Homo sapiens: one gene and its partners. The protein of the gene in region 7 interacts with the protein of the main gene of each other region in a biochemical or structural test. Each region holds a gene or a part of one and is shown on either strand. Other genes may lie near its edges.

The links.
Region 1: the proteins of TJP1 (region 7) and CACNA1D interact in a test that uses a peptide from one of them, tested with the Homo sapiens proteins (one large-scale study listed by IntAct).
Region 2: the proteins of TJP1 (region 7) and GYPC interact in a test that uses a peptide from one of them, tested with the Homo sapiens proteins (one large-scale study listed by IntAct).
Region 3: the proteins of TJP1 (region 7) and NET1 interact in a test that uses a peptide from one of them, tested with the Homo sapiens proteins (one large-scale study listed by IntAct).
Region 4: the proteins of TJP1 (region 7) and SLC22A3 interact in a test that uses a peptide from one of them, tested with the Homo sapiens proteins (one large-scale study listed by IntAct).
Region 5: the proteins of TJP1 (region 7) and SMCHD1 interact in a test that uses a peptide from one of them, tested with the Homo sapiens proteins (one large-scale study listed by IntAct).
Region 6: the proteins of TJP1 (region 7) and PODXL interact in a test that uses a peptide from one of them, tested with the Homo sapiens proteins (one large-scale study listed by IntAct).

The regions. Positions count from the first base shown.
Region 1 is NC_000003.12:53,809,111-53,812,610, reverse strand, and holds part of CACNA1D (voltage-dependent L-type calcium channel subunit alpha-1D), read right to left. Parts: intron 2,634-3,500; coding exon 2,313-2,633; intron 1,499-2,312; coding exon 1,205-1,498; 3' UTR 1-1,204. UniProt on the Homo sapiens protein: Voltage-sensitive calcium channels (VSCC) mediate the entry of calcium ions into excitable cells and are also involved in a variety of calcium-dependent processes, including muscle contraction, hormone or neurotransmitter release, gene expression, cell motility, cell division and cell death.
Region 2 is NC_000002.12:126,690,658-126,694,157, reverse strand, and holds part of GYPC (glycophorin-C), read right to left. Parts: intron 295-3,500; coding exon 211-294; intron 1-210. UniProt on the Homo sapiens protein: This protein is a minor sialoglycoprotein in human erythrocyte membranes. The blood group Gerbich antigens and receptors for Plasmodium falciparum merozoites are most likely located within the extracellular domain.
Region 3 is NC_000010.11:5,426,057-5,429,556, reverse strand, and holds part of NET1 (neuroepithelial cell-transforming gene 1 protein), read right to left. Parts: intron 2,903-3,500; coding exon 2,836-2,902; intron 388-2,835; coding exon 328-387; intron 1-327. UniProt on the Homo sapiens protein: Acts as a guanine nucleotide exchange factor (GEF) for RhoA GTPase. May be involved in activation of the SAPK/JNK pathway Stimulates genotoxic stress-induced RHOB activity in breast cancer cells leading to their cell death.
Region 4 is NC_000006.12:160,449,378-160,453,077, reverse strand, and holds the end of SLC22A3 (solute carrier family 22 member 3), read right to left. Parts: intron 2,083-3,700; coding exon 2,022-2,082; 3' UTR 501-2,021; downstream 1-500.
Region 5 is NC_000018.10:2,697,226-2,700,725, forward strand, and holds part of SMCHD1 (structural maintenance of chromosomes flexible hinge domain-containing protein 1), read left to right. Parts: intron 1-605; coding exon 606-816; intron 817-3,313; coding exon 3,314-3,434; intron 3,435-3,500. UniProt on the Homo sapiens protein: Non-canonical member of the structural maintenance of chromosomes (SMC) protein family that plays a key role in epigenetic silencing by regulating chromatin architecture.
Region 6 is NC_000007.14:131,546,629-131,550,128, forward strand, and holds part of PODXL (podocalyxin isoform 1 precursor), read right to left. Parts: intron 1-3,500. UniProt on the Homo sapiens protein: Involved in the regulation of both adhesion and cell morphology and cancer progression. Functions as an anti-adhesive molecule that maintains an open filtration pathway between neighboring foot processes in the podocyte by charge repulsion.
Region 7 is NC_000015.10:29,714,469-29,717,968, forward strand, and holds part of TJP1 (tight junction protein 1), read right to left. Parts: intron 2,371-3,500; coding exon 2,143-2,370; intron 1-2,142. UniProt on the Homo sapiens protein: TJP1, TJP2, and TJP3 are closely related scaffolding proteins that link tight junction (TJ) transmembrane proteins such as claudins, junctional adhesion molecules, and occludin to the actin cytoskeleton.

The DNA of each region.
Region 1 (3,500 bases), on a different chromosome or scaffold from region 7:
TAATTCACTTACTTACTTACCAGAGGGTGGTTCAAGTCAAACAAACAAAACCAAAGACAGTTGCAACCCATGGTGGATCCAAAGGTACAGTATCAAAATCATGGAACTCTTGCCCAAAGAAAAGACTGCAAATAGTCATCTGGTATATCTTGTGGAAAGATGATAGGTTTATAGTGACTCAAAATATTTTAGAAAAATTTCTGTAGTGTCAAGTTCTTTCAAACTTAAAATTTTAACCCCAGAGGATTTTCGCTGAATAAATGAGAATTGGCTCTATTTCTTCTACTTCTGGATAGCCCGAGTAAAAATACTAATAATTTCTAGATTTTAGTGGGGAACTACAATTATTAGGACCCATGGATATTGCTGCAGTTCAAATACAATACAGTAATTACAAAATATAGACCATCTCTTTACAAATACAAATTATAGTATATTACAAGTCATGTACAGTAAATCTATAATTTTAAACAAACTAGTGTATCTAAGTTTACCTGGTTGCGAGTGCATTATTATTCCAGTTTACAGTTGCCCTTAGCGTGACAGTCAGAAACCGACCATCGGAGTGATATTCTCTTATGTAAACTGGCGTCACATCACAGAAAACCTTATTTATGAGGTCCCATTGCCCTCGCAATAATCACTGGTAGCTGGGTTCTGACTTACTTACACACCGTATTTCAGAACAGCTAAACAGGAACCAGGACGCAGTGTATTTGGGGGAAAGGGTTTAAAAATGGATATGTTGGGCCCAGTGACTGATATGCTAGACCGATGGCTGAGGTAACGACACAGGTGTGATGATCGTCATCACCTTTAACTTTCCCCTGCACCCCGCCGCCATGCCTTCAGTTGGGTGGGCCTGGTGCCCTGGTACATGGGAGAAGCAGACTCCACAGCAGTGCCCATCTGGACAATGGGGCAGGGCAGGTCTGGCCTCCTCACCCATCCTCTGTGAGAGGGCGGGGCCTGCTGTTTCCTGCAGCTGGGGCCGAGCGCATGGTACTCTGCCAGGCTCAACCGCTTGGGACCTGTTCCTACCAGGTTTATGGCTTTCTTGAGGCATGACATCTCTTATACAAAAGTCTAATTAATTGAATATTACTCCCAACTAGTGCCTAAACTTTCCTAACTATGAGGCACTTTTCCCCTGGCTCTCCTGCGCCCCACCTGAGGCCAGAGCCAGTCTGCCCCTCGCTGGGGGCTACAAGGTGGTGATGCATATCATTTCATCCGCCAGGTCCTCCTCATCCCTCCCAGGGTCTGGCTCTTCGTCGCTGTAGCCAGGACCAAAGTCCTGTAGCTCATAGTCCTGCCGGTGTGAGAGGGGGCCCACATCCCCGTTGGCTCGGGGACGCACGTTCCCATTAAGCAGGGTGCTGGCTGCACTCTCCATCTCGTCGATGGTGAGGTCACAGGCATCAGCGATTTCGTGTTTTGTTGCTGACACAAATTTTGGGTCCCTTGCATAGCGTCCCAAGCCTTCGGATATCAGGACCTGTACAGAAAAGAGGGATGGATGGCATGGGGGTGTTATAAGGCTTTGCAGGGCAGGGGGACGACAGAAAAATCAACTCCAGTGCTAACTTAACTGCACCGTGTGCTTTGGGGATGCAGCTCAATCATGTTTTCTAGACCTCATACATAATAACTAGTGTAAATGGCTTTGAAAATGTCCTGGAGCTAAAAAACTACACATGGCCCAACAAGAGTGAAACCCACTGGGGAAAGACATTTAGTATAAACTAGAAACATATGCCGGAACAGCACCCATAATGCCAGCACAGCTCATTTATGAGAATTGACGGTGGTGACCAGTTTTTGTTTTTTTTTTTTTTTTTTTTTTTTTTTTGAGACAAGAGTCTCGCTCTGTGGCCCAGGCTGGAGTGCAGTGGTGTGATCTCGGCTCACTGCAGCCTCCACCTCCCGGGTTCAAGCAGTTCTCCTGCTGCAGCCTCCTGAGTAGCTGGGATTACAGGCATACACCACCACGCCCGGCTAATTTTTGTATTTTTAGTAGAGACGGGGTTTCACCATGTTGGCAAGGCTGGTCTTTGAGCCGCTGACCTCAGGTGATCCACCCGCCTCGGCCTCCCAAAGTGCTGAGATTACAGACGTAAGCCACTGCAGCCAGTGGTGGTGACCAGTTTTTACTCATGCTTCAGGTACATTCCTGCTGCTCAGAAGTGTCTGATTGAGGCAGCCTAGCTCACAGCCTGGCCGCCCTCCCACCACTGCCCTTCCTGCTGTTACAGTTGCACCTCTGCTGCTCCTGGTGCTTCCTGCCCACCACGGCCAAGAACCGTACTCACTGCCTCCACCAAGCTGTCCGCACTCCTCTGCTTGTCGCTGTTTTTGTTCCGGAAGCTGCTGGGGACAGTCAGGCTGGCTGGTGTGAAAGTCCGGTAGGAGATGTCGGGCTCGTCTGTGTACCAGGAGCTGCGGTGCAGGGACGGCAGGCTGCCGTTCACCTGGTCCAGGGCCTCTGACTGCTCCACTTGGATCAGGGGGGTGTAGCACGGTGTCCAGTCCCGGTAGGGAGGGGTTGCTGGAGGGGTGGCCCACGACCGGGTCGAGTGACTCGGTGAGTACTTCTGGGCTTTACTTGAATCTAGGCCGGCAACTGCCATGATCTGAGGAAAGAGGGGACTGTTGGGAGACCAGAGGTTCTCAGAGGTCCGGGCCTCAAACCTTCTGCGCACAGACCAAGCACCGGCGCTGCGCTCGCCAGGGGCAGTCCAGGCAAGGACTTGGAAAGGACATGGGCACACTGAAGTACGCTGAATGAATGGGCGGTGATGACTTTGTTTTCTAGCAGACTGTGCTTTCTTTTACCCCGAATCCATAATGCATTTCCTTTGGCTTTTCCCAAGGAGGTATCAGTTGCTAATTCATGAAATTGCTTCAGAATGAAGAATCAGGGAAGCCCAACAAGCTGTGGGTGTGAACACACCACCCAGTTCATGCTGGGTTTAAATACCGAAGTACATTCAGGGGAAACTACCACTTCCCAGCACTTATAGGAAAACAGCTGGTTCTCTTTGCTCTGGAGTAATGCATCCTAGAGCCGGCATTTGGCATGTGCTAAAGCACTGGGTACAAGCCCCGGTCTTACAATCCCACCACGGCAGATGCACCTTGGGGTTCACACTCTGCAGAGAGGGACGGGGAACGCTGTCTGTAAACAGCACAGGTCCATGCCCACCACCCTGTCGTGCACGAATGAATGGCATCTCTGATGTGATATTTTCAGAAAGAAAAAGCGCCATATTGTTATCCTTGAGGGAAAGCCCTAGTGAGTGGGCTCCGGCCCCACCCTCTTGCCTGTGCAGCCGCCCTCAACGTGGGCAAACTGTTCTCCCCAGACTGCTCCCTTTGTAGGCAGGGGAGGTTAACCCTGCATAGTACCCACAGGGCCCTGCCCATGGAGGGACCCATAAACTTAATGAAGGAACCACTTCTTAGAGAAAATGAAGGGCTGCACCGCTTGTTCAGAATCA
Region 2 (3,500 bases), on a different chromosome or scaffold from region 7:
AATACATACATAGATACGTACGATGTATGCATGTATATATATATTTACCCAGGGCTAGACTCCTCCATTCCACATTCAAAACCACCTCTGAGGGAGAGAAAAAATGGCCACAGCCACCACTGCCCAAGTCCTTAGGTCAGTTCTCCCCTGGATGTTTTCACCAAGGCCCCCCACCCTGGCTGCTTGAAGGGCTCTGTGATGAGAGCTCACCTGCAATGACGACAATGTCCATTATGGTGGGGGTGGAGGTCTCCATTCTGCCATCCGGCCATCCAGACATCCCTGGATCAGGCTCTGTGAACAGAGGACAAGAATCTGAGGTCAGAGAGGAAGATTCTCCATGCCTAGCAGCACCTTGGCCCAAGCTGCATCCTTTGCTCAGGTGTGAGCAGCTCTGAGAATGGGTCCAAGTGGAAAGGAGCAGTGCGGCGCACCCACTGCTCCTAGCAGGGATGCACAGACCAGGAACCAGGTTCTGCTTGGTCACTGACTGGGATGGAACTGTTTGAACCTGAACCACCAGGTCACTCCAGGCCCATTTGAGTTATCTGCCTAATGCCTGCACTGAGAGTGGTGCTGCACGTGGTAGATGCTCAACAGATATCTGTGCTGTGTATGAAGGCAGGGACTCTTGTTGTGTTTAAGAAAGAATGTTTGTGGAGTGTCTGATGCTCACACCAGGTGTCTCAGTCCATTTTGTGTTGCTATAGCTGAATACTTGGGTAATTTATAAAGAAGAGAGGTTTATTTGGCTCACAGTTCTAGTGGCTGGGAAGTCCAAATTGGGCAGCTGCATCTGGTGAGGGCCTCATACTACTCCCACTCATGGCAAAAAGCAGAAGGGGATCTGACATTCGCAAAGAGACCACAAGGTGATATAGAAAGCAAGAGAGTTTAGAAAGCTGAATTTGCTTTTATAACAACCTGCTCTCCAGTGACTAATCCAGTCTCACGACAGCTAGAACTCCCTCCCTCCCTCAAGGGGGTATTAATGTATGCATGAGGGATCTGCCCCTGTGACTCAAATATCTCCCACTAGGTCCCACCTCCCATCACTGCCACCTTGGGAATCAGATTTCAACATGAGCTTTTGCAGGGTCAAACCACATCCAAACCATAGCACCAGGTGTTGCTTTAACTGCCTTCTATCTACTCTATCATGCAGTCTTCACATCCATCCTATGAGGTGCCTGGTGTTAATGGCCCATCTCACAGGAAGAACACCAAGGTTCAGAGACGTGATGTGCCCTTGATCACACAGCTCATCCGATATCAGGTCAGGACTTGGCCAGTGCTCTTGCCTCTGGAGTGCACTTTCTCTCTTGGAGAAGCCCTTCCCAGGGCTCCTGTCTGAGGAGTCATTCCTGAAGCCCTCCCATAGGTCTTTACATTGACTCTGCTGTGGGAAGGACCACTCTATGACACTATCCAAGTTACTGAGTGTGTTTTTTCACAGCTTAATGACCTGGCCAAAGAGGGTAGGATGTCTAGGACATTGGGGACCGGGATGTTTCCTAGAGCTGCTGCACAGAATGCCTTCTCTCCTCTGGGAGATGATTGTGAAGAAGGATTTATTGGATCACAGAAATATCAGTGTTAACATAGGAAATCCCACGTTCCCATTACAATGGCTCTACATAATAAAACAGAGAAGGATGCTTCATAATAGTCATTTCCACTCAGATAATCACTTTAATTATAGTGCTATGAGGTCATTCTCCCCAGTGCAGCTGCCAGATGCCTCTTTCTTATAAGTAACTGCCTGCTGGAGTCAGGAGTCATAATGGGTGAGGGGAAAACAGACTCCCAGCTAGGGGTCCACAGCAGGACACAGATGGGCCAAGCTAGGGGTGTCTGGGGCCACCAAGGAGCTTGGAGGTGGGGAAGAAGATAATACAAGGCACTGAGGCAGCCCAGGGACCCAGTGAACACTGGCTCAGGATCTGGGTCTCGGGAGCCAGGAACCAGGCAGGGTATAGGATCCAGCATTCACGGTGTTTCTCAGTAGCAAGACCTGAAGCAAGGGCCGTAGCAAGTTCAAGTGGGTGCTAGACTTTATTATATAGAGTGAACAAGTGCAGCCTCCAGTTTAGTATCTAGCACATAGTAGGTACTCAATAAATATTCACTGAATGCATGAGTAAATGCATGCATATATAAATGAATGGATTTAGTGGTGGGGTTCTAGACTTTTCCAATCAACAAGCACCTCAAAGTTCAGAAAGAAAGAATAACACCTTGCTTAAGTAGGCATGGATGGTTATAGAAGCTCAAATACCCAGAACTGCCCTCAGAAATTTTCCAGGTGAAGACAGCATTTATTAGGACAGTTTGTCCAACACAATCAGCGTTAGAAGAGACTGTTATTTCCTCTTCCTTTAAAACAACTAACAATCGCTTACTAGGTGCCAGGTGCAGGTCTCAACATTTAAAGCAATTTAACATGGTCCTTGCAACAGTTGCAAGAACACTGCTTGGAGATTATTCATTCTAAAACCAGGGAAGTCCCAGAAAACAGGGCAGAGCTGGTTGCTGTATGTACACTATACAGGGGGAAAAATGAGGCTATTAACTGTGCTTGGGGCAGGTTGTGTGGTTTGTGTTTTTCAATGGCCCGATGACTGCTCCTCAGCCTACCCTGCTCCCATTCCCTCCTGGCGATTGAGGACTGGGGTGAGTCTGCAGGAGGAGCAGGACTTGGCCACACAAAGGACTGAAGTGGGAGAGGGTAACGCAGAGAATGCCAAGGTGTTGGCTGTGCGAGGGGCAGTCACCCCTCACTTCTGCTGGGACTCCAGAGGGGTGGGGAAGTACAGTGTAAGGCTGCTCAGGAGGGGTCAGATCACTCAGGACCTTGAGAGTGAGGGGGCAGCAGTCTCATGGGGTGGGGGTGTTTTGAGTTTGGGCATTTACTTTGAAGCTGCAGAGCAAGCCTCTGTCTTTTCTTAGAATGCAGGTTTATTTGGAGGCCTTGGGGAGGGACTGCTGAAGAATATGGAAAGTCTGAAACTGCTCCCAAGTCCCACCTTTATAGAACAATTTCCTAAACTTCCTACTGCCTTCAGGGGAACACTTGTATCTGCATAATGTTAATAATATCACCTAGGAAGAATAAAAGCTCAGTGGTGCAATGAGTTGGAGAATGCCAGGTTACACAGAGTCCAACAGGTGTCTTTGATTGCTTGCTTCTGCTGCTTTTTCTTTCTTTTCAAATTGTAGATGTTTCCTGAGTTATTAATAAGCTGCTGAGAAGTGTGGATCTCAAAGAAGGTCGCAGAGCACACAGCACCTCCCAAACTTGGTTGTTCTTCAAACACAGTTTGCAGTCACAGCCATGACCCATGGGGAGCCCGTTGCTCAGGGTTCAAAGCAAGGCAAAGGCAGGCTCAAGTTTCCTTGAGGATGGAGGGTTGGGGGTCATGGACCCAGGGAAGAAAATAATGTGGGATGAGGGAGACGGTGGAGAAGTCTAAGTAGCCTGGTCAGTCTACCCTCATCTC
Region 3 (3,500 bases), on a different chromosome or scaffold from region 7:
AACCTGGGGCTCTCCTTTTCACCACCGGCCCTCTCTTACCTCGTTCCTTCGCACAGATTACAGCCTGTCTCCTTAGCATTTGTGTTTGTGATCAGTAGTTATAGCCTAACATTTTGAGAGTGGTTTCTCCCTCATTCTTAACAAAGAAGTAGAATAGCAAAAAAGACGGTGTCTATGAACTAATATTATTCACTTTTGCACTTACAAAATGCAAAAAACAAAAAAACAAAAAAACCCAAACCAGCATTTGTTATTCTTGCAGCACAGAAATAAAATGCTATCTGCATATTTTTAAATGCTTTTCTTTAACAGGGCAGCAGGGCTTACCTTCAGATCAAGGCTGCTAAGGCTTACAACATCATCATCTTTCTCTCTGCGTTTTCTTTTCTAAAAGAAAAATAGAGATTTCATTCTCATATAAAAGGAATGCATATTACCTCACAAAACAAAGACTCTATAAAACTAGAAAAATCAATTTAAAAAAGTTAAGCCTTTGGCTATAGTCACAAGAAAATTACTTTGAGGCCAGGCGCGGTGGCTCACGTCTGTAATTTCAGCACTTTAGGAGGCTGAGGAGGGCGGATCGTCTGAGGTCAGGAGTTCGAGACCAGCCTGGCCAACGTGGCGAAACCCTGTCTCTACTAAAAATCCAAAAAAAAAAAAAAAATTAGCTGCGCGTGGTGACACACACCTGTAGTCCCAGCTACTCAAGAGGCTGAGGCAGGAGAATCGTTTGAACCTGGGAGGCAGAGGCTGCAGTGAGCCGAGATTGCGCCACTGCACTCCAGCCTGGGTGACAGAGCAAGATTTCCTCTCAAAAAAAAAAAAAAACAAAGAAAATTATCTTGAGGAGAGACGCTCATGAATTGTCTTTGGAATAGATACTATCTGAACAGTCTCCCCTGACTAAGTCATCACTGCTGTGAAGTGGCTACCCTATTAAAATACTACTTAAGTTTTTCAGAACAGAACTCTTATGTAAATCAAGGGCTGTCTGTACTTGTTAGAGAAAAAGTAAAAATTTTTTAAATATAAAATCAGCTAGTTTTTTTTTTTTGAAAAGGAACACATTATTTATCTTGGGGGCAAGGTCTTCACTAGAAAAAAAAAATCCTTTTCTCATGGCCCAAAGTAATTAAGATTTGTTGCCTGAGGCAGGATTGATTAACTAGAAGGTGAACAGCCATGTCCCTGGAGTACTTTCCACTTACCATTTATCACTTTCATTCAGCCCTTCTGGCACCAGTAGTGGCAAAACTGTGTACATATCTACCATTTCTGGTACTTAATTAATAGTGAATAAGCACCCACGGGTAACACTTCATTTTCCCACATCTCAAAATAACTTTTCAGGTTACCTACACAGCTTACTTCTTGGTAACTCTTAAAAAGTGACTAGTTAGGGTTCCCGTCAACTTCCTGGCCCCACAGTGAGGAGAAACTGCTGGGAATTGAATCAAAATTGAACAAGATAGGGCCAATAGAGAAGAAAAAAAAAAAAAAAAAAAAAAAAAAAAAGGAACGGCAAAGTCCAGATAGAAGTGGAGAAAGTAACAGAGCCAGGCAGTCTCAGAAAGCAAGCTACCATAAAAAACAACACGAAGGAGGGTTGTGAAGTCAGAAAAGCTATCTGAACCAAGATTTTGTGTACAAGTTGAAAACTAAATTCACACTAAAATGAACAGAAAATTCTCAAAGTCAAATTCTACACAATATCATTCTATGAAAAAAGAAAACAAGGAACAGAATCTATCCCCTAGGAAATGACTGCACACCAGGAGGAAATGCTCAAAGCAGCAGAGCAAAATTATAACACACTGTTTTGAATTGAGCTAAAAGACATTAGGAAAATGATCTAAGACATGAAAGAACAATATATATCAGAATGGAGGTGTTGGAACTCAAGAAATATTTTACTGATCCCAAGGTCATACCCAGAAGATACAGAAAATTATGAATAATATGATCCCAGGTTTGAAAGGCCAACTAACCATAAATCCTGCTTGTGTATTTATCTGTGAGCCTCTTTGTGTATATTAATGATATGAGCAAAATATAGAAGGATACATATGGTACTGTTGACATGGTTAGAGCAGAGCCTGGGAATGGACTAATATGGAGAAGGAGAAGAAGTGGGGAGGAAACTGCCTAGCAATATTAGACTGTACTAAGGGGAAAAAAGCACATATATGATCATACTTATGCATTTATATGAAATTATATTTTGAATCACTTTTGCTATTTTTCCTAGATAAGCATAAGAATCATGATCTATTTGTACGTACTTTATATATGTATTATGAGCTAATAAGTTTTAAGTACAAAAAGAATCAATTTTCTGTTATCACTTCACACAAAATTAAATGCCTCTGTAAAGTCCTGCTATAAAAATAATAGAGTCCCTCTATGCTGAGATGATTAATAGCAGAAAATCATTCATTATATATATTAAATATATATACACAATGTGCAATCAAGCATTTTTATATTTTCAACCAAGAAAAAAAGGCAGTAGAGGATGTATAAAAATAATTTCATGTTTCATAATATATTATCAGATTTAACATTGAAAGGAATAAGAGAAAGGATGGCATAGAGTTAAAGATTAATAGATGTGAGTACTTTGCAAAATATGTTTTATATTTACTTGAAACAAAAAGTTATTACAGCTTGTTAGCAGAAAAGGACTAAATTAGGCTGCCAAAGATGGTTACAGGAATTCTGTTCCTCAAGACCCTCAGAAGTAAGGACCACTGATCTGTGTAACAGACTGAAAGAAACCAGGGAATTAATTCTATCTAATGTCTCGAAATAAAAACCCAGGTATCTACTCACCAAAGTGAAGTCCCAGTTGGGGCCAGGTGTTAAGAATGTGAAGGAGCTGCCTCTCCGAAGGGAACATCTATTAATGGAAAATTCAAACAATAAATAAAGAGATTGACTTTAGCATAATAGAGCATCAAACAGATAAAAAGCTATACTTTTCATACTTTCAAAACCGTTTAAAGTGGCCTGATTTGTCATTCAATCTTAGTAATATGAGAGATGGTCTATATATATATAAAAAACAAACAAACAGGGTATAGGTTTTGGTCATTCTCAGCATCTTTAGAGTGAAAAGGCCTATATAAAATTAGTGAACAGATTATTTTAAAAAGTAATTTGCCAAACTCAACAGAGTTTACCTTAGGAACATACATATAGTTCAAAAACATGAAATATATTAATAGGTTAAATAAAAAACAGCAAACAAACTTCCTAAGTGCAAAAAATTTAGCAACATATTCACGTATAGTATTTTAAAAAACAAAAATAAAAGGATACTCTTAACAAAACCTAACTTCACATTATCTGCATTTCATGTAAATCCCTAATTTTTTAAAACTGCAATTTAACAAACAAAATACAAAGCTATGAATAACTACATTTGAGACAAAGATCTCAAGATTAAAATGTGATTAGAATTTTGTTCTTTACTATTAAAAGATTTTTCTGTGTTT
Region 4 (3,700 bases), on a different chromosome or scaffold from region 7:
GAGCAGGCTGCAAGGTCACAGAGGGCAGAGCCGAGAAGTCCTAGGAAGTTGTCCATGCATTTACCTCATCAGCTAACGAGGGCTTGACACACATTTTTATGTCTTTATACCTAACTCTGAGATGAATGTTTTCAAAGCTGCAACATGTATGGGGAGTCATGCAAACCGATTCTGTTATTGGGAATGAAATCTGTCACCGACTGCTTGACTTGAGCCCAGGGGACACGGAGCAGAGAGCTGTATATGATGGAGTGAACCGGTCCATGGATGTGTAACACAAGACCAGCTGAGAGTCTGAATGTTATTCTGGGGCACACGTGAGTCTAGGATTGGTGCCAAGAGCATGTAAATGAACAACAAGCAAATATTGAAGGTGGACCACTTATTTCCCATTGCTAATTGCCTGCCCGGTTTTGAAACACTCTGCAGTACACGTGTCACAGGAGAATGACCTGTGGGAGAGACACATGTTTAGAAGGAAGAGAAAGGGCAAATGTACATTTTTTACGATTTAAAATTTTAATTGTTACCAAACAAAAATATCCACTCAAAATACAATTCAACAATGCAACAGTCATCTTACAGCAGAGAAATGCAGAGAAAAGCAAAACTGCAAGTGACTGTGAATAAAGGGTGAATGTAGTCTCAAATCCTCAAAGAGTTGTGTTTATTTCATCGACAAATAGATTATTCGTATTCAATTCTGATGTGTTTTAAAGACTAAGATGCTCATTTTACGATTAGCGCACATGTGTATATTGTCACCTGTTCTCCTTAGAAAAATGCTCTTCCTCATGGTTAATGTTTCCCTTTGGTACCAATTTTGCCTGTTTGCATAAAGTATTTCATTTTTAAAACTCAGCATAAAATATAGACTGCATCTGAAAAGATATTGAATATAACATATAAAGCAGAACACACAAGTTCCACATTTCAAAAGCCTCGATAACAAAAAAAGAAAGATCAAATCCCTTATTAGTCTCTGTAAAGTCATTTATAAAGCTCCTGCTGATCCTGTTAAGCATGGATATAATTGATCTTTCTTTTAAATTAAAATGTAAGCTTTTCCCCAAGACATGTCAAAGTGCTAAGAATGAATAGGAATTGTCCATGTTTTTCGCTTTTGACCACGGGCACCATCGGAACTGAACTCACAAATATAAGAAAAATATCCCTTCACTTTTAAAATCCTAAGACCCAGAAATCAGAATCCATGGGATTTGTTTAGTAAAGAAGGGAATCTGTGGCTCTAGGTGTCCACTAAAGGAGAGCCAAAAATGTCCCAAATAATCTCAGAACCACAGCATCATTTTGTAAATAACAGAGCCAAGTCCTCAGATTGTACAGCAGATTGGTTCTTATTGCTGGAACAGGGCCTAAACCATGCCTGGAACCCCAGCTGTTACAGAGGAGGTGGACGGGAGGGACTCCTGACCTGTTCACATTGCGAAGGTGTGCGGAAACCAAGGTGAGCAGAGAACATGAATGCTCACACCCTTTGGCCCAGGTGCCTGTGATTCAGCCTTCTCATTAACAGGATTCCCAGATGTTCATCCTCCATGCAATCTTCAGAATGAATGGTCAGCTAGGAGCTTAGTCCCTTGACCAGATTTGATGAACACATTTCTGTACAACTTTCTCAAATCCTTGGTCGGCACATCCCACATTCTTGATGGAGCTGTCATGAGAATCAGGTTGGGGGCTTCTCTTGTCTCTCTTTAGCCTAATGGGTCAGAGACCACAGGGAACACAAGAAAAAAACCCAGGAAGGGCTGTGCACCTGACAGCTTCTTTGTTAAACTGGCTACATATTATGTGTTCCCAGAAACTTCAACAGCATTACAAATCCTAACTCATCCAACATTATATAAAAATACTCTGGATAGATTGAGGTCTTTATACAGTATTACAACAGCGCGGCATGATGTAGCTGAAATGCACACGTGCATCTCTGCAAGGCACAGCTTTGCAAGGAGGATCAGCTCCTGGATAGCTCCTTCTTTCTGTCTTTGTCGGGGGCCTCAAAGGTGAGAGCGGGAAACTGGGGTTTTCTTATTCCTGCCACATTTACAGGAATGTGGACTGAAAAAACAAAGGAGAAAGTCTTTAGGAAAGATTATGTAACTAGTTAGAAGAGGGTGTTCTGTTATTATTTAATAGTATAGCTGGTTTTGATCAAATACATTCATGAAAACCCAACTCTAAGGTAACAACAATATCTGTCTCCAGGATCATTTTTTGTCTGTGTTCAGACCTTAGGGGTGTTGCAGGAAGTCAAGGACCCTGAATGGAGGGACCAGCTGGAGCCACAGCAGAGGAATATAAATTGTGAAGATTTCATTTTGATATGGACATTTATCAGTTCCCCAAATTAATACTTTTATAATTTCTTATGCCTGTCTTTACTTCAATCTCTGAACATAAATTGTGAATATTTCATTTTAATATGGACATTTATCAGTTCCCAAAATTAATACTTTTATAATTTCTTATGCATCTCTTACCTTAATCTCTTAATCCTGTTATCTTTGTAAGCTGAGGATGTATGTCCCTCAGGACCACTACTGTGTTAACTGTACAAATTGATTATAAAACATGTGTGTTTGAACAATATGAAATCAGTGCACCTTGAAATAGAACAGAGTAACAGCGATTTTCAGGGAACAAGAGAAGACAACCATAAGGTCTGACTGCTTGTGGGATCGGGCAGAATACAGCCATATTTTTCTTCTTGCAGAGAGCCTATAAATGGATGTGCAAGTAGGGAAGATATTGCTGAAGTCTTTTCCTAGCAAGGAATATTAATAATTAAGACCCTGGGAAAGGAATGCGTTCCTAGGGGGAGGTCTATAAACAGTCGCACTGGGAGAGTCTGCCTTATGCGGTTGAGATAAGGACTGAAATACACCCTGGCCTCCTGCAGTACCCTCAGGCTTACTAGGATTGGGAAACCCCGCCCTGGTAAATTTGAGGTCAGACCAGTTCTCTGCTCTAGAACCCTGTTTTCTGTTGTTTAAGATGTTTATCAAGACAATACATGCACCGCTGAACATAGACCCTTTTCAGTCATTCTGCTTTTGCTCTTTGTCTTGTGATGTTTGTTTTTGCCCTTTGCCTTGTGATCTTTGTTCTCCTTTTTGCCCTTTGAAGCATGTGATCTTTGTACCTACTCCCTGTTCTTACACCCCCTCCCCTTTTGAAACCCTTAATAAAAACTTGCTGGCTTTAAGGCTCAGGTGGGCATCACAGTCCTACCGATATGTGATGTCACCCCCAGCGGCCCAGCTGTAAAATTCCTCTCTTTGTACTCTTTTTATTTCTCAGCTGGCCAACACTTATGGAAAATAGAACCTATGCTGAAATATTGGGGGCTGGTTCCTCTGATACAGGGGTTTGTTAGCATTATAGCATTTAAGTTCTTTATGAACTTCTACTGAATTAACATATATTTGGAAATGAGCTGTTAACATGAACAAAAACCAGCAGAAACGATAAAATAATCCAGTGTGATTTTTAAAAGGGAAATGCTAGCAAGTTTTAGTAATTTAGCACTAAGTAATTTTTGTAGAGTAAATAACCATGGATCACAATTAATGTGCTTAAATTGTAGCACTGTAAACCATACTTCTACTATATTTTTTTTCATGTATAGAGACTAGGTATAATTAATTAATGTACCCAACTTTTCATTATGAAAAAT
Region 5 (3,500 bases), on a different chromosome or scaffold from region 7:
CTCTCCTTGTTTTTTACCAAACTACTTTCATTGTTTGATATCCAACTAAAGAGATTATTCCTAGATGTATTTTTCTCAAACCTTTATTTACTGTAGGCTTGGTTTATCTTTTTTTGTCTCTCTTCTGTGGAGCTATGCATTGTTACTGAACATCAATCATCTCTTGAAGCATGGAGGAAAAGGGAGATAATGTAGCTTTCCTTTTGTTTGTAGAAGTTATATCGTGGTGACAAGGTTTAGCAGCACAGAGCATTTGAGTATTGGATTCTCAATCCTCTAACCCACACGTTAGAATTTCACATACGATGTTGTCCCACTTCCTACCTCTAGCAAGAAACCTCGAATTAAATGTACTCATGACTTTTCTGTCCTTCAGCTCTGATTTGCTGTTTCTTTGCTTACTTTATATTTTTTAGTAGTATGTTCCTTATTGAGATGCTACTTAAAGCTGTTTAACTCATATGTAAATATATGTATTTCATTAAGCCAGATTGTTACTTGTACAAATAAACATAATTTTTACTTATTCTGTTGTTGAATCATAGCTGAGAACAAAAGTAAAGTTACCATAGAATTTAATTATTTTTGTTTCCTTTTTATTTTAGATTTCTATGTTTGAAAAAGGGAAGGTACCTAAGATTGTCAACCTAAGGGAAATACAAGACGACATGCAGACGTTGTATGTAAACACAGCAGCTGATAGTTTTGAATTCAAAGCTCATGTTGAAGGAGATGGTGTAGTGGAAGGGATTATCCGTTATCATCCATTCTTATATGATAGAGAAACTTACCCTGATGATCCATGCTTTCCATCAAGTATGTTAATCTGTTATCTTAGTTATAAAATATGAAGTTGTAATTTAGGACAGTGATTTGTTTTTCTAAATGATTATCGGTTGGGTTATTCAGGTTAGATAAATATTAAATTTTTTCTTATGCAAGTCTTAGATTGTTAGGTATTTGTAATTTTTGTAATTCCTGATTTTTGTGTACATTCATTTCTAGATGAATAAATCTTTAATGAACTCTTCTTTTAGTTCTGTTACGAAACCAAACTTTTAGATATGTATGCGTATTAATCCTTTATATGTTCCCTTGTCTTCTCTTTATCCTTGTTGCAGTTTTACACTTTATGCAGTCATATTTACTAACTTTTTCTTTATGCTTTCTGATTTTGTCTTACTGTAGAAAGGCTTTTTACATCTCAAAATTATATAAATCTGTAGCTTTTTTGTTTTTGTTGTCATTTTATGGTCAATGCATCTGTGTTTTTCTTTTTTGTATGTAGAGCAAGGTGGGGTTTTATTTATTTATTTAAATTTTTGAGTGATGGGGTCTTGCCGTGTTGCCCAGGCTGGTCTTAAGATCCTGGCCTGAAACAATCCTCCTGCCTTGGCCTCCCAAAGTACTAGGATTACAGGTGTGAGCCACCACACCTGGCCCCCACCTTTTTTTCCCCCCCCAGTAGAGAGATAGGGATTTAACAATTATTTTCTATGTGGTATTCATATTCAGTTTCTTAGCACCAGTTATTGAATGTTATAATTTACCCAAGAGTTAGAACTTGTATAATACAAAGTTCCCATAAGTACATAGGTCTAGATTCTTTACTATAAAGTACTATTTTATTTTTTTTTAATATGAGTAATGATACTGTCTTGTAGCTTTATCTTGTAATTTGGTATCTTTGGGAAAAAACATTTTCACTATTGTTCCTTTTTGAGAATACTTTTGCTCTTCTAGATAATTTTGGAATCAGCTTTGTACATTCACTTGAAGTAATTCTAGTGAGATTATTGGGATTGCATTGAATTTATAGGTTAACAATATTAAACTTTTTCATTCAGAATACTTCCTTAGTACATTCTTGGTTTTCTAGGGCCTGCAACCAGAGATCCTGATTCGAATCCCATCTTTGCCACTTTCTGTTGGACAAACTACTCCCTGCCTTAGTTTCCTTACCTGGGAAATGGGTAGTTCACACCTCATAGGGGTGTTGTGAAGATCAAATTTAAAAACTGGGGCAACTTCTCAGAATAGTGCTCAACACTATTTATTAAGTGCTCCTGCCCAGTACATATTGTTACTCAGTGGCTCCACTGGCCTTTTTGGTTTTGTTTTTTATTTTTTGGAGACAAAAGTCTTGCGTTGCCACACACGCTGGAGTGCAGTGACACAATGTAGGCTCACTGCAGTCTCTGCCTCCCAGGTTCAAGCAATTCTCATGGATCAGCCTCCTGAGTAACTGGGACTACAGGTGCCCACCACCATGCCAGGCTAATTTTTTGTATTTTATTAGAGACAAGGTTTTGTCATGTTGCCAAGGGTAGTCTCAAACTTCTGAGCTCAGGTAATCCTCCCACCTCAGCTTCCCAAAGTGCTAGGATTACAGGCGTAAGCCCCTGTGCCTGGCCATCTCTGACCTCTTAAATTTGCTGTTTCCAATTTTTGTGTGCTAATAGACAAAAAGATATAATTTTTTTCAAATGCTGCCTTAAAAAGAAGAGCAAGTAAGTTGAGTGATCAATCAGAGGGATTCTCCTCTAAGAGCAAAGTGATTTTGTTTGATTGAAAGCAGCTTTTATATAAGGGACTTCTTGTGAGGGCTTTTAGGGAGAAGGTTTTGTTTTAGGTGGGTAAACTAATTCCAGGGTAGCTGAGGTGTTAATATGTCAGGATCACATTGTTTAATCCTAATTTATCTGGATACACGAGAGTGTGTTGCTAATAAACATAAGATTATAGACAATTGTGCAAATTAATGCTCTTGATGCATAGTAACATGTCTTACAGTTCTGTGTACATTTTTCATGCTTACTTGAATCTGAAAATAATTTCTAAAAAGTAAACTTAATTTTAGCATCATTCACTAATTTGTTCAAACTAGGTAAACTCGCTGCTATTAGATGTCATAGATTTCTCAGATGACTTTCATGTGAACATACTAGTTCTGATAAAATTGTGAAACTGTTTTAGATACGGGATTTAAGCTCCTATATTTGTAGGAAGGAGGGATTTTGTTATAGGGGATAATCTTTTTGGATGTAAGACTCTTTTAGCCTCATGAATAGGTTTTAAAGATGACAGGCCCAGCAGCTAGTACATTGGTTCATATATAAGTAATTATTGACTTCTAAATGACAGACAGCATTCGTAATGTGGAACCACTTTGTAAACCTACCTTTTTGTGGGCAAACAGTATAAAACTACCTTTAGGTTTTATAGAATGCAATTTGAAACATTTATGTGTTTGTTTCATTATTTCTCACATTTTAGCAATAAACATTTTGTTCCATTTGCCCTTTTGATCTAGAATTAAAAGATGAAGATGATGAAGATGATTGTTTCATACTTGAGAAAGCAGCTAGAGGGAAAAGGCCTATTTTTGAATGTTTTTGGAATGGACGATTAATACCATATACATCAGTTGAAGAGTAAGTTTGATTTTTGCTGAAATTATGTTTTTACAACTTAATTCTTTTACTAACTAACATTTTGTT
Region 6 (3,500 bases), on a different chromosome or scaffold from region 7:
GGTGAGAGGATCGCTTGAACTCCTGAGGCGGAGGTTGCAGTGAGTCGAGATCGTGCCACTGCACTCCAGCCTGGGCAACACAGTGAGGCCCTGTCTCAAAAAAAAAAAAAAAAAAAAAAAAAAAGTCTGTTTTGACTCAAAGCCCCAAAGTGAAGGGCAGTGCCCCCTAGGGGTGAGCTGAGGAGCACCAGGCAGGAATAGGAAGGCAGGGGGCGCCATCTCAGTGGCTTCTTAGCTAAGCCCACCCTGGCCACCTTCATCTAAAACTGCGGTCTCCAACTAACCCTGCCTCCCCGCACTGAGGCCCCCAGCCTGAGTAATGGGGAAGGGCCTTGAAGAAGAAAACCTGGCCCTGTGAGGTCGCAGAGGATGCTGCTCTAGCATGGCGTTGGGGGTGGGGTAACAGGGTCTGTTGACTCACACTGGGCTAGGGCTGACGCCAATACAAGAAATAAAATCAACATGCCAGGTGCGGGTGGCTCACATCTGTAATCCTATCACTTTGGGAGGCTGATTAGGCGGATCACCTGAGGTTGGGAGTTCAAGACCAGCCTGACCAACAAGGAGAAACCCCGTCTCTACTAAAAATACAAACTTAGGTGGGCGTGGTGGTGCATGCCTGTAATTCCAGCTACCCCAGAGGCTGGGGCAGGAGAATCACTTGAACCCGGGAGGCGGAGGTAGTGGTGACCCAAGATTGCGCCATTGCACTCCAGCCTGGACAAACAAGAGTGAAACTCCGTCTCAAAAAAAAAAAAAAAAAAAAAAAATCAACACGTGTGGATGCTTTCTGCACATCAGAGGCACCACCTACATGATCCTATTTAGCCCTTGCTATGGAGGAGGGCACAATACCTATTTTCCCGCTGGAGAAGCCCAGGTCAAGGAACAAGTCTGAGATCACAAGGCTAACAAGTGTCGAAGCTGTGGCTAAAATCCAAGCCTCTTAACTGCAGAGTCTAGGGCATCAGCAGAGATTTCCATTTTTCTTCTCTTCACCATCACAGCAAAATTTTTTGTCAAAGGAATTCTTACGTAGAGACCTATCATACGGAACAGTTAAAAGTAGGCCTTCGTGAAGAGGATGGACGTAAAACTCCCCCCAAATCGGCCTCCTCTTAATTTTCCTCTCCAGGTATGCACCCCAAGCCCTCAGTGGCCCCCAAGGCAGCTCCACGGAATACCACCCGCAGGTTTCAAAGTCACTGGCCCCCGGCTGCTGCTGTCACTGAGAGCTCATAGCCAAACCCCTAAGACAGTATTTCCTTGGCCCTGCACTCACCTGCTCTGAGGTGAGAGGGAGAGATGGGGAGCAGAAACACTTCTTCCCTATCCACAGGCCAGTGGGGGAACCCAGGTCCTTCCCCTCCTACCCTGCCCAAGGCCCAGCTTATGGGGGTCCTGGGACACCTCGGATCCCTGTTGCAGCTCAAGACCCAATTAGGAAGGAGCCAGGTTTCTTTGTGCATTACCAGAAACTGCCCCTCAGGACCAGAAGGCTACAGCCACATAACTGGAGGACTAAGTGGGACCAGGCTTCCTGAGAGCTGTGTTTCCTGAGAGCTGTGTGCAGAGGCGAAGCTGATCTGACCGGCAAGGTGAGGACAGAGGGCAGCTACAGAGACGTCCAAGGTTTGCAGGGACCAGTTCTGCAGTAGCATTTGCCAGTCACCTACTCCAAATATCCACTCTCTGCTTCCTCCTTGTAACTGAACCACTGTTTTTTGGGTAGGCACTTGGGTGCCTGAAATAAAAATTACTCTTCCCTAAGTTCTCTTTCCTGCCTGCCTTTCAGCTAGTGTGACCACATGCTAAGTTCTGTTCAACAAAATGTGACTAGAAGTGTCACATGTGGTTTCTGGGAGGCACACTCTAAAGAGGAGCCACATGCTTCTTGTTCCTTCCTTTTTCCTGATGGCTGGAACTCCAGCAGCCACCTTGGACCACGAGGCCACGTGTGAATGATGGCAGAACCACTATACCACCCCTCTGAAGTTCTATGATATGAGAGAGATATAACTGATGCCTGTCTTATTTAATCCACTACTCTTTTTTGTTGCTATGAGCAGCCAAATCAAGTTCTAACAAACACAAGCCCCAATCCTCAGCTGAAGGATCCTTTGGGTGGGGACAGCACAGGAGACATGGCCCCCTCCTGCTTCCTACCAGGAATCCCTGCTCCTTCCTGCCCATATGCCCCCAGGACCTAGGCCGGCCCCCACCTGCCACCTCTTTCTTGAATCAGGTAGCCTTGCATTTACAGAGCACAGGCTGGCAGGCAAGTTCTAAGCCAGCCCTGACACCTACTCACTTACTAACTCATTCATTCAACCTATATTTATGGAACAGCTACTTTGAGCTAAGTGCTATTCTAGGTGCTGTGGCTACAGCACAATGGAAGTCCCTGCCCTCATGGAACTTACAGTCTAACGGGGAAGAGACAGACAAACAAACAAACCAATGAACACATATCAGGTGACGAGTGCTATGGAGAAAATAAAGGCGAGTAGGAGGAAAAGAGTGTGCTGGGGGGGAGGGGTTTCTAAGCAGAGCAGCCCCGGTAGGCCTCTTTGAGAAAGTGGCATTCATGGGGAGAGCTGAAGGAAGTGAGGGAGTGAACCACGTACATATTGGGAGAAGAGCTGGTTGTATGATCTACTGCAAGTCCTTGCATCTGTGCCTCAGTTTCTCCTCTCTGGAATGGTCTGTGAGATAAAGGTCATGCAAAGGCAGGCTACCCCAGCTGGAGGGCTCTGTGGTTCCAATCAGTGTGTTGGGAGTAGGTTGGCATGGGAACCTGGCTGGATGGAGACCAAAGGGACTCAGTCCTCAGGCAGAGCTCCATGAATTTCAGGTAAGAAGGAGCTGTGGCTTCAGCCTCACACACAGCCAGTATGTTCAAAAATTACAGAGTGCCCTCCTCACCGGCTTGCTTAACTGCCGTCCCTTCTACTCTGATCAGGGTCAGGTAGCTGGAAGGTTAAGAAATCAGACAGCGTAGACCCCAGGTCAGTCCACACATCCCTAGGGGCCTGGCTCTGGGAGGTCCCTGCACCCCAATCCAGGGCCAGATAGCAAGCCTCTCTCAGCCGCTCCTTAGAATTCTCTTCCCCCTGAGTGGAGGCACATACATAGCCTTCTGGCCATGACAATTGGTGGACGAGGTGCCACCCTACACCCTGGTCCTCGGAAGTGTGAGGTGGCTTATTCCCAAGGGGAATAAGGCTACAAAAGAAGAGAGGGTGGTGGTGATATATGTCGGGGAAGGGGGTGGGGATGGTTGGAGGTGGCCCAGGGGCCAACCTTAGCTGGGGGACCCTCTTAGCTGAGGGTCTGTGCTTGCTGCTGCTCCAGCGATTCAGGGCAGGGCCAGGACTCAGAGACAATGCAAGAGCTTGGGATGCGGGAGATGTGGGCAAGGGCCACTGATGAATCTGCAGCTGAACGCTGCATTTTGTGCAGCCAATTATCCCGCAAACATTTCTTAACCACCTATTTGG
Region 7 (3,500 bases):
ACCTCATGATCCACCCACCTCGGCCTCCCAAAGTGCTGGGAGTACAGGCGTGAGCCACTGCGCCCAGCCTTTTTTTTTTTTTTTTTTTTTGAGACAGAGTCTCACTCTGTTGCCCAAGCTGGAGTCCAGTGGCACGATCTCGGCTCACTGCAAGCTCTGTCTCCCGGGTTCACGCCATTCTCCTGCCTCAGTCTCCCGAGTAGCTGGGACTATAGGAGCCCGCCACCACGCCCCGCTGATTTTTTTGTATTTTTAGTAGAGATGGGGTTTCATCGTGTTAGCCAGGATGGTCTCGATCTCCTGACCTCATGATCAGCCTGCCTTGGTCTCCCAAAGTGCTGGGATTACAGGCACGAGCCACTGCGCCTGGCCATATAATCTTTTTAAGGTTGTATTCTATTTACCAAATATGTAAAACGATAAATAAGAGATATCTTTAAACTAAACACCTGAGCCTTCTTCTGACAGGAATGAATGTGTTTAACGGTGTTTAGTAAAAATAATAACTAAAGGGTACACCCTTCTGCCTTACCAAAGGTGAGCTCCTATGGCTCAGTGCCTAGCTCACTTTAGGCTAGTCACCATTTAGATGTTACTGTGATAACTGTGTAAATGAATTCCTGTAACACTGTAAATGTAAATGAATTCCTAATGACAAATCCACATCTGTTTTTGTTCTTGTGGGTTTTGTTCTGTTGAGGTATGAACCCAGCTGTGCACCTGTGTGGGTTTATATTGTGCTAGCTCACTTCAGTCCAGACACCATCTAGATGCCACAACCCCTTTCTAGTGTTGTGCTAAGGGGTGGTTCACAACACTAGTACAAGACACGTTTTGCATTTAATACAACCCCCACTGCAGCACTCTCAGTTTGCATTTGGATTCTCATAAACTGCTTTCTTCTGTAAACATAAAGCCTTAAATATAGGACAGTGAAAAAAGTCTTCACTACAAAGGATGTCTTAGAAAAAAGCAGTGGTAATTAAAATTAGGTTTTAATGTTAGTGGTTTTAAAGTATGTTCTAAAACAATTTACACTCAATAGTAAATGACAAATAGGTCATTTCCCAAGATAATCCCAAGCCCACGCAACTAAGTAAGGAAAAATCTAGGTGCTTTTAATATAGACACAATACTATGTGTGATGAATTCTAATATGTCAATCTGGCTAGGTACTGCCATGAAGGGATTTTTCAGGTGTAATGTCCCCAAGTCAGTTGAGGGGAGATGGTCTTGGGAGGGCCTGGCCTAATCAGCAGAGCCCTCTGAATGAGAATTTAGGCCTTCCCTGATCTCACACTCCCCAGTAGCTCAAAATCTTCCCTTCCTGACCAACTGCCCTCTGAAATAGGACTTGCTTAGCCAGCCCCTGTAACTGTGTAAATGAATTTCTTTTGACAAATCCACATCTGTTTTTGTTCTTGTGGGTTTTGTTCTATTGAGGTATGAATCTACCTGTGTGCCCGTGTGGGCTTAGACACAACTATCAGTACCAAATTCTCTTATCAGTCAGGGTTCAACCAGAGACACAGAACCAGTAGGAGACACAAACCCACGCAGGCACAAGAAAGGAGAACAAACCAACACGAAACCCAGGGATGAGTAAACGGAGGGGAGCAGCAAGCACAGGGAAAAGATGACTGGGAGTCAAGAAACTTGGGGTTCAGTCCCAGCTCTGCCCTGTCATTTTCCCTCACCTGTAAAACTGGATCAGAAATCTTACAAAAACAAAAAACAAAAAACCTCTTCAGTATTTCCCTCAAACAGGATCCTCCTCACATCTGTATTTATATTTAAAAAATAAAAACAGAAAAGAAAAAGAACCAGCATGACATCATTAGGTGTGTGTACAGAAGTGAAGACTGATGATTACCTATCGATGAGGGTCCTTGTGGTTGACACTGTCTTCCGTCAAAACCCTGTGATGTTAGCATCTTTGTGAATGCAAAAACTATGTACATCTAATAGCAGACTTTAAAAACAAAACACACATCCCAGAACTAAAAAGTATGTACAATGCTGAACCACTAGAGCCTACAGAAATCATATATTACACTTAAATTATTTTTCTTCAAAATATATTGAACTGCACGGGATTAATATGCTGCATCCTATTTTTAAAAGCCAGGTGAAATAGCTTACTTTGAAGAATAACTAGAAAAATTTGATTGATTCTGAGAATGCGCTGGCTTTGCAGGCTCGGAGAGATGGCTGGCGGCAATGTGTGCAGGAGGCTTATTCTCAAAACTTCTTCGGTCAAAGTATGACAGCTGTTTTCGATAATATTCTTCATCTTCTTCAGGGTCATAATGATTGGACCGAACAATATCTTCAGGTGGCTTCAGTTGAGGTTTTTGAGGTTCTGGGATCCTAACAGATAATGAATGACAAACGGAACACCTTTTTAAATATTAATGTTATGAAGGAAGTAGAATATGTAAGTCTTATCTTGACTAAAAGGTCAATAATTACTAACTGCTGTGATTACTGAGGATCTGAGCAGTCCCAACAGTTAAAATGGATATTTCAAATCCCATGTCCTCACAGAGTATACTCAAAAGGCAGCCCCCTTCTGGCTCATGAGTCCTTTAACACAATATAATAAGCTAAACGATTACATGATTAGGGAACAGCAGGTTAGAAGTAGTTAATCAGAAAGACAAAGGGCAATGTAACCGAGACAGTGAACATCTTGAGAAGTACATATACCAAGGTCAAGAACAGTAAATGATAGACTTTAAGAACTTTCAAAGGGATTTTTAAGAACTCAGTCCAGGATCTCAATGATTCTCATATGAACAAATAACTCTATATGGTCTAAAGTTCTAGAAGGCATACAAAGCAGATGAGGAAGAAAGCAAGTCATTAAGTAAATTCATATTAGACAGTTCTCTTCTTTATCCTAAGTGCAAACATATATTCAGTCAAAAAACAAAATCAGAAGAGCTGTATTCAAATCTAATCTGTCACTTATTGGCAGTGCAATGAGGCCATGGGAAAAAGCTCAGGCTGAGGAGCAGCAGGCCAGGTTTCTCTTCCAGCTCTAAGTCTTGTAAGCTACTTGCCCCTCTCAGCCTCAGTGTCTCTCTCTACAATGCAGAACAACAACAGTGTCACCTCATTATGCTGATGTGCTTAGCACAAGGGCAAGCACCTTATGCATGCTCACTAAATGATTTAGTTATCTTAACCAATCTGAGTCTGTTTCCTCACCACTGGAAACTAAGAGTTCACATGTCGAAAAGCACTTTTAAAACTAAAAAACATAATACAAATGTCAGAGCTTAAAAATGTTTATTTAATCATCTGCTTGGAGAATATCTTTCCGAAAGTCTGCTAAAGGTATAAAGATTTGTCAGATTTGTCAGAAATAAAGTTCTACTTTTTTTCCCCCTAGAATCACTGTTTAGGAGAGCTGATAGTTTTTATTTAAGGACAAACTCCTCCTATTCACACCTCTCCTCTACTAACACAGTAAAAGGTTTTCTTATTGACTAAGA